Homo sapiens: one gene and its partner. Changing the gene in region 1 together with any one later gene gives a genetic interaction. Each region holds a gene or a part of one and is shown in the gene's direction. Other genes may lie near its edges.

Evidence for each region.
Region 2: changes in SETD1B (region 1) and SAP30 together harm fitness more than expected from each alone (negative genetic interaction), as found in Homo sapiens cells (one large-scale study listed by BioGRID).

The regions. Positions count from the first base shown.
Region 1 is NC_000012.12:121,817,373-121,821,188, forward strand, and holds part of SETD1B (histone-lysine N-methyltransferase SETD1B), read left to right. Parts: coding exon 1-332; intron 333-426; coding exon 427-532; intron 533-2,031; coding exon 2,032-2,523; intron 2,524-3,816. UniProt on the Homo sapiens protein: Histone methyltransferase that catalyzes methyl group transfer from S-adenosyl-L-methionine to the epsilon-amino group of 'Lys-4' of histone H3 (H3K4) via a non-processive mechanism.
Region 2 is NC_000004.12:173,373,638-173,378,032, forward strand, and holds the end of SAP30 (histone deacetylase complex subunit SAP30), read left to right. Parts: intron 1-301; coding exon 302-400; intron 401-3,567; coding exon 3,568-3,690; 3' UTR 3,691-3,895; downstream 3,896-4,395. UniProt on the Homo sapiens protein: Involved in the functional recruitment of the Sin3-histone deacetylase complex (HDAC) to a specific subset of N-CoR corepressor complexes. Capable of transcription repression by N-CoR.

The DNA.
Region 1 (3,816 bases):
CCGAGCGAGAGCGAGACCGGGATATGGCAGACACCCCCTGTGAGCTCGCCAAGCGGGACCCCAAGGGCGTGGGTGTGCGGCGGCGGCCGGCGCGGCCTCTGGAGCTGGACAGTGGTGGGGAGGAGGACGAGAAGGAGTCATTGTCGGCGTCCTCGTCCTCATCCGCGTCATCATCCTCGGGGTCCTCAACCACCTCACCCTCGTCCTCGGCCTCCGACAAGGAGGAGGAACAGGAGAGCACCGAGGAGGAAGAGGAGGCGGAGGAGGAGGAGGAGGAGGAAGTCCCCAGGAGCCAGCTCTCCTCCTCCTCAACCTCATCCACATCAGATAAGGTGCCTAGCAGGCCAGGAAGCCTCAGGGGGCCGGGCCAGGCGACGAGGGCCAGACCCTTCGGCTCACCTGTCCCCACTCTTCCTTCTCCCCCAGGATGACGACGATGACGACAGTGATGACCGGGACGAGTCTGAGAACGATGACGAGGACACAGCCCTGTCAGAGGCGAGTGAGAAGGACGAAGGGGACTCGGATGAAGGTGAGCAGGGAGGCCGTGGCTGCCTGGCCCTCCCGGAGTCCCTCTTTCCCCGGGGCAGAGCCTGAGCAATTGTCAGAAATACTTCTGAGCCAAAATGTTGTGCTTTTGAGACGTTACCTTGTTAAAACACACACACAGGGTGGCGTACGGTTCCATCTTCAGGGAGTGCCGTGAACATAATGGCATGTCCATAGAAATAGAAAGCAGGTCTGTGGTCCTTAGGGCTGGGGAGCCCGGTGTTCAGGGGGGCTTGCTCAGCCTACATGGCTTCCTTTTCAACTGATAAAAATACTTAGGGACCAGATCGAGGTGGTGGTTGTGCAACATTACAAATGTACTAAATGCTGCTGGAATTATCACTTTGTAACGAGCAGTTGGCCGGACGCAGTGGCTTACACCTGTAATCCCAGCACTTTGAGAGGCCTAGGCGAGTGGATCACCTGAGGTTAGGAGTTCGAGACCAGCCTGGCCAACATGGTGAAACCCCGTCTCTACTAAAAATGCAAAAAATAGCCAGGCGTGGTGGTGGGCACCTGTAATCCCAGCTACTTGGGAGGCTGAGGCAGGAGAATTGCTTGAATCCAGGAGGCAGAGGTTGCAGTGAGCTGAGATCATGCCACTGCACTCCAGCCTGGGTGACAGAGTGACACTCCACCTCAAAAAAAATAATAAATAAAATTTTTTTTACAAAGTGAGCAGTTTTTGGCTGGGCGCAGTGGCTCACGCCTGTAATCCCAGCACTTTGGGAGGCCAAGGCAAGTGGATCACGAGGTCAACAGATCGAGACCATCCTGGCTAACACGGTGAAACCCCGTCTCTAATAAAAATACAAAAAATTAGCCGGGCATGGTGGCAGGTGCCTGTAGTCCTAGCTACTCAGGAGGCTGAGGCAGGAGAATGGCGTGAACCCAGGAGGCGGAGCTTGCAGTGAGCCGGGATCGCCCCACTGCACTCCACCCTGGGCGACAGAGCGAGACTCCGTCTCAAAAAAAAAAAAAAAAAGTGAGCAGTTTTCTGTTATGTTAATTTTACCTCAGTTTTTAAAAGCGACTACTAGCGGCCGGGTGTGGTGGCTCACTCCTTTAATCCCAGCACTTTGGGAGGCTGAGGCAAGTGGATCACCTGAGGTCAGGAGTTTGAAACCAGCCTGGCTAACATGGTGAAACCCTGTCTCTACTAAAAGTACAAAATTAGCCGGGCGTGGTGGTGCATGCCTGTAATCCCAGCTACTTGGGAGGCTGAGGCAGGAGAATCGCTTGAACCCAGGAAGTGGAGGTTGCAGTGAGCCGAGATCGTGCCACTGCACTCCAGTCTGGGCAACAAGAGCAAAACTCAAAAAAAAGAAAAAAAAGACTCCTAGTGAACACATGCCCCACACACATATCTGAGGGCCGTGTTCAGCCTGGGTGCCACCAGTTTGAGGCCATTGGTGAGGGGTCTGGTGGGGGCTGGGGCACAGCGGGTCCTCAGGCAGCCCCTCGTCTGTGTCCCCCATCCAGAGGAGACAGTGAGCATTGTAACCTCCAAGGCCGAAGCCACGTCGTCCAGTGAGAGTTCCGAGTCTTCTGAGTTTGAGTCAAGCTCCGAGTCCTCGCCCTCATCCTCGGAGGATGAGGAGGAGGTAGTGGCCAGGGAAGAGGAGGAAGAAGAGGAGGAGGAGGAGATGGTGGCCGAGGAAAGCATGGCTTCTGCAGGCCCTGAGGACTTTGAGCAGGACGGGGAGGAAGCGGCTCTGGCCCCGGGGGCACCTGCAGTGGACTCGTTGGGCATGGAAGAGGAGGTGGACATCGAGACTGAGGCTGTGGCCCCTGAGGAGCGGCCCTCCATGCTGGACGAGCCCCCCTTGCCTGTGGGTGTTGAAGAGCCAGCGGACTCCAGGGAGCCGCCTGAGGAACCAGGCCTGAGCCAGGAAGGGGCCATGTTGCTGTCTCCAGAGCCCCCTGCCAAGGAGGTGGAGGCTCGACCCCCATTGTCCCCTGAGCGAGCTCCAGGTAACACCTGCAACCCCCTGGGAGGGTGGTGGGAGGGAGGCAGGAAGTCCTCACTGTCAGAATCAGCCCGGGCTTCCTGGGGTAGATCGCTGACCGTCCCCAGCCTCAGTTTCCCGTGTAAAACGAGATCAGCCGGTTGTGCCTCCCTCGAGCGAGATGAGGTGTTGGGTGCCAGCACTGAGCCTGGCACTGCATGGATCAACCCAAAGGGGAACGACTGCTATTTTTCAGTCCTCACTGCCAGCGTTTCCCTGGTGGCTTGGTCCTTGGACCATCAGTCCCATGAGATGCTCCCCAAAAGGAGGATGGGTGTCCATGGTCACTTGAGTGACAAGTCGGTGGGGTAGGCCCTGGGGTGCTGGGCCAGGTGAGGGCTGCAGGCATTGCCCCCTCCGGCATCGTGATGCTGCTGCACAGAGCATATGAGAACTCTAACTGCATGGCCAGTAGAACTTTCCACAGTGATGGCAGCGTTCTCAGGCTGTGCTGTCCAGCACTGTAGCCTTCAGACACAATGTTGCTACCAAACTCTTGAAACGTGGCCAGTGGCACAGTGGAACTGAATTTATAATAGTGTTCAATTTATTTTGGCTTACATAGATAGCTGCATGTGGTTAGCACCTACCTCTTTTTTTATTTTTATTTTTATTTTTTTTGAGACATAGTCCCGCTCTGTCACCCAGGCTGGAGTGCAGTGGCACGATCTCGGCTCACCGCAAGCTCCGCCTCCCAGGTTCACGCCATTCTCCTGCCTCAGCCTCCAGAGTAGCTGGGACTACAGGCACTCGCCACCACACCCGACTAATTTTTTGTATTTTTAGTAGAGATGGGGTTTCTCCGCGTTAGCCAGGATGGTCTCGATCTCCTGACCTCATGATCCACCCACCTCGGCCTCCCAAAGTGCTGGGATTACAGGCGTGAGCCACCATGCCCGGTCCTAGCACCTACCTTTAATAAGTCCTTCAGGAAAGGATTACAGCTGCCCCTGTACATTGAACACATGGCTAGGGCCCACGGACATGCAGTTTTCAACCAAATATGGACGGAAAAGACCGGTGGGATGCGAAACCCACTGTATATGGAGGGCGATCGCCTATACGTGGGTTCTGCAAGGCAGACTACAAGCTTTGAGTATGTGCAGATTTAGGTATACCAGGGAGTGTTAGAACCAATTCTCTGTGTGTATTGAGGGACGACTGTGTTTTGTTTAATGTAATGTATTTTGTTTTGTTTATTCCACCATTAACCACAGTCTTTGAACATTGACTCAATACTAAGCCTCTATTGTGTCCC
Region 2 (4,395 bases), on another chromosome or scaffold:
AATTAAATATAGCCAGTTGACATGCATTTACACAGTTTGAATTGTTACATTTTAGATTGACAATTTTTGCAGCTCTGTTGTCACATAACTTACTCTTTTTTTGACCTCAGTTTATATTATTTATCCCCAAAAGATTAAATTCTTTAATAATTTATGTTGGATTATATAAATTTTTTAAATTTTTTTTGATTTTGGAAGTAAATTTTATTGTGCTGAAGTTAAAATGTTTGTTATTATACATATCAATGATAAATTTTCAACAAATTGTATGAACTCATTTATACATGTTAATTTTTTCTAGGTTGATTTATACCAATTACAAGTAAATACACTTAGGAGATACAAAAGACACTTCAAGCTACCAACCAGACCAGGACTTAATAAAGCACAACTTGTTGAGGTATATATGAGTTTTAAACTATTTGAACTATCTGCACAACCGAGAGGTTATTAAGTGCTAATGGAAGTTTTAATGTAGTGTATGTAACAGTACATTTTAATTAGAAAGAACAAAGTTAAAAAATCTGTTGTGGAAGAATCTAGTTGTGTAGAAATGTTTGTCTGCCACTTAGGAAATTCCTTTTTGTAATGACTGCTTAGTAGATTGTGTACAGCACCTTCTGATACTGGCTTTCAAAATGTGTTGATTGTTTTTTGAGACAGAATCTCACTCTGTCACCCAGGCTGGAGTGCAGTGGCATGATCTTGGCTCATTGAAACCTCTACCTACCAGGTTCAAGCAATTCTCCAGCCTCAGCCTCCCAAGTACCTGGGACTTCAGGTGTGCACCACCACACCAGGCTAATTTTTGTATAATATTTTTAGTAGAGATAGGGTTTCACCATGTTGGCCAGACTTGTTTCAAACTCCTGACTTCAAGTGATCTGCCCACCTCAGCCTACCAGAGTGCTGGGATTACCAGTGTGAGCCACCGTGCCTGGCCCTCAAAATGTTGAATGAGAGTTTTTTTAATCCTCACTTTAGAAATCTATTAATTTTAAAACTCCGTTTAACCAGTAAACATTTGAGCACCTAATTGAGGCATAATAAAATTAATTAACAAGCTTTAATGTCCTTATTAGAATTTATATTTTAAAGTGGTGGAATAGGCCTACAAATCAGACCCTAAACAGTATTTTTATAATTTGCTGACTTAACTATTTCAAAATTTGTCCTTGTTGATGTTTGTTTTATTAGAGACATCCATGTTTTTTTCACATCTAGAAGAGGCAAAAGCTTTTCTTTTACCCAAGCTTTTACTTGTAGTTTGCTTTGATAGAGGACTTCTAGTCAGTCACTGAGTTGTGAAAAGTTAACGGAGCATGCATATGTTTTCAGGATATAATAGAACCAAGAAATCTGTGCATCTTATTAAGATGTTTATAGATTTATATATATATATTTTAATCATATTTAAAATAAAAATTTTTACTTGCAGCTACTGAGGAGGATTGATTAAGCCTAGGAGTTTGAGTCACCATGGGCAACATAGCAACACTCCATCTCTAAAAAAAGAAAATTTGGCCTACTAGACAAAATAGAAGTGTAGAAATATAAATCAGTTTTCTCATATTCTTTGCATGGATTTAGTAGTTACCCAACATTTTCTAAAATGTGCCTATTGAATAAAATGAAATATGAATAGAAGTTACATTTATTTGGCAGAATGCTTTTTAACATTGTTAAAATCTAATATATTAACTATTTAGCTAAAATTTTTTATCCTTGGTTGGGCAACACAGATCTAATTAATTTTTCTTTAATTTTGATTTAAAAGATCAAGTTCTTTTGGGGTTGTACAATACATTAATGTAACATAAATATAGTTATTGCCCACCATGATGAAATATTTCAATAGGTACTAATGGAGTGAAGGCACCCCTGTTTTGGGACAAATGAGAACCAAAGAACTGATTATTTTAAATGTTATATTTAGGTATAAATTAAACCTGTAATTTTTGATAAACTGACCTTCTAAGAACAGTTATATTATTTCCAGAGCTATTTTCTTTTTTATACATAAGAGATAGCCATGAGTGTTATATTTTACTTAATCAGAAATGCAGATATTAGCAAGTTAAGGAATGTGCAGATGTAGTACATATATTTTAAGAGAGGGGTCCCCAACCCCAGGGCCATGGACTGGTACTGGTTGGTGGCCTGTTAGGAACGGGTCCGCAGAGCAGGAGGTGAGCACCAGCTAGCAAGCATTACTGCCTGAGCTCCGCCTCCTGTCAGATCAGCCACAGAATTAGATTCTCAGAGGAGTCCAAACCCTCTTGTGAAGTGCACATGTGAGGGATCTAGATTGTATGCTTGTTATAAGAATCTAATGCCTGATGATCTGAGGTGGAACAATTTCATACCAAAACCAACTCCGCCACCCTCAATCTGTGCAAAAATTGCCTTCCGTGAAATCTATCTCTGGTGCCAAAAAGGTTGGGGACCACTGTTTTAAGGGAATCCAGGGTTGTATGACTAAGTCTTAAGTCTCTTAATTATTGTGTGGATGAACTTTTTTCTTAAGAAATTTTATTTTCTGGAATCTAAATATGCATGTCAGCACCCCAGGTAAGTCTATTATTCTTCTATTAGTAATTGTAGTATGCATGTTATGTTAGCACAATGAAAAAGCAAGGAAGCAGGTAAACATCCTTCATTGAACATCCCTCTTTCTCCTCTCATTTCCATTCATAATTTTTATTCAGAAAAATTTTCAAGGAACCTTAACCAAAGAATGCTACCAAGGTGTGAATGAATGAATATAATTTGCAGCAAACAATTTATATGTTATTGTTGGTTTCTCTACTAGCAAAAGTTTTCAACTTCATACTTCTTTTTCTATCAGTAGAGTCTAAACCATTGCAGGTTTAATGATGCATGTGATCTCTTACGTCTGTTTTATCTCATTTAAAGTTTAAAAGTAAAATCATTTATTCCCTATTCTAGATTCTAATTATAAAATTTATTATTTTTATTTTATTTATTTATCTTTTTTTGAGACAGAGTCTTGCTCTGTTGCCCAGGCTGAAGTCCAGTGGCATGATCTCAGCTCACTGCAACCTCCACCTTCTGGGTTCAAGCAATCCTCCTGTCTAAGCCTTCTGAGTAGCTAGGATTACAGGTGTACACCACCAGGCCTATCTAATTTTTGTATTTTTTTTGGTAGAGATGGGGTTTCGTCATGTTGCTCAGGCTGGTCTCAAACTCCTGGGCTCAAGTGATCCACCCACCTCTGCCTCCCAAAGTGCTGGGATTACAGGCATGAGCCACCACGCCTGGCCCAATTATAAAATTTAAAATAAATAAAAGGAAAATATATTTTCTAATCAATGTATATTAAATTGAGTGGGTCAAAGGGTCCTTTGAAATCACACTATCTCTTGTTCGTAACATTTTATTCTTGAATGCTTTCTGTCTTGTTGATATTTTGTTAAATATAATTTTTAAAGGAAATAGCCCTTATCACATAGCACTTTTTCTTTTGATGAAACCGTATTTTTTACGTAGTTTATGAAACCTGTTATATCTAAAATTTAATTTCCTTAATTTTTCTTTTCTTTGTAGATAGTTGGTTGCCACTTTAGGTCTATTCCAGTGAATGAAAAAGACACCTTAACATATTTCATCTACTCAGTGAAGAATGACAAGAACAAATCAGATCTCAAGGTTGATAGTGGTGTTCACTAGGAGACGTGGAATTGAGACTAATAACTTGGATGTTAACACTGTTTACTGTTTTTTCACATGTAGAAATGTTCTTTGTGTATTTTTTCTACAGAGGATTTTCTCTGATTTTATTTTCTTTGTTTCTGACTCTAATAATTAGTTGGAAACTCATATAAAATGAGCTTTCCTAAATTAAATCTATTTTAAATAAAGGTTATTACTATTATAGTTGCTTCAGTGTATTTATTTTGTGAAACTTGATTTTTCTTTTAAACTGACTAAGAGATCAGTATTGAGATTTTAATGTAAAGTCCTTCATTTTGTAATCCTTTTTTTTTTTTTTTTTTAAACTTCCAAGAAATTAACAGGGTAAGGAGAAGTAACAAATGTAGCACATTTGCATTCTCTGGGACAATCTGACTTGGAAGTGAAGATAATCTAAATAGCATTATTTTTTAAAGTGCTTTATAGGGCTAGCAAATTTGAAAAATAAACTTCTCTTGGAATGCAACTTCTTTTTTATTTCCTTTTTTTTGTTATTATTACTTGATGAAGTACTAGGAAGAACAAATGGTTTAATTTATATACCCACCTCCTTCCAAAGAAGACTTAATGTGCCAGCAAAGATAAACACAATGCTGAAAGTTGAAATAAGAGTATAAAATTAAATAGCTGTTTTTCAAAATTTTGTCTTCGAGAAAAGATATTTATGTGGCATGAATATAG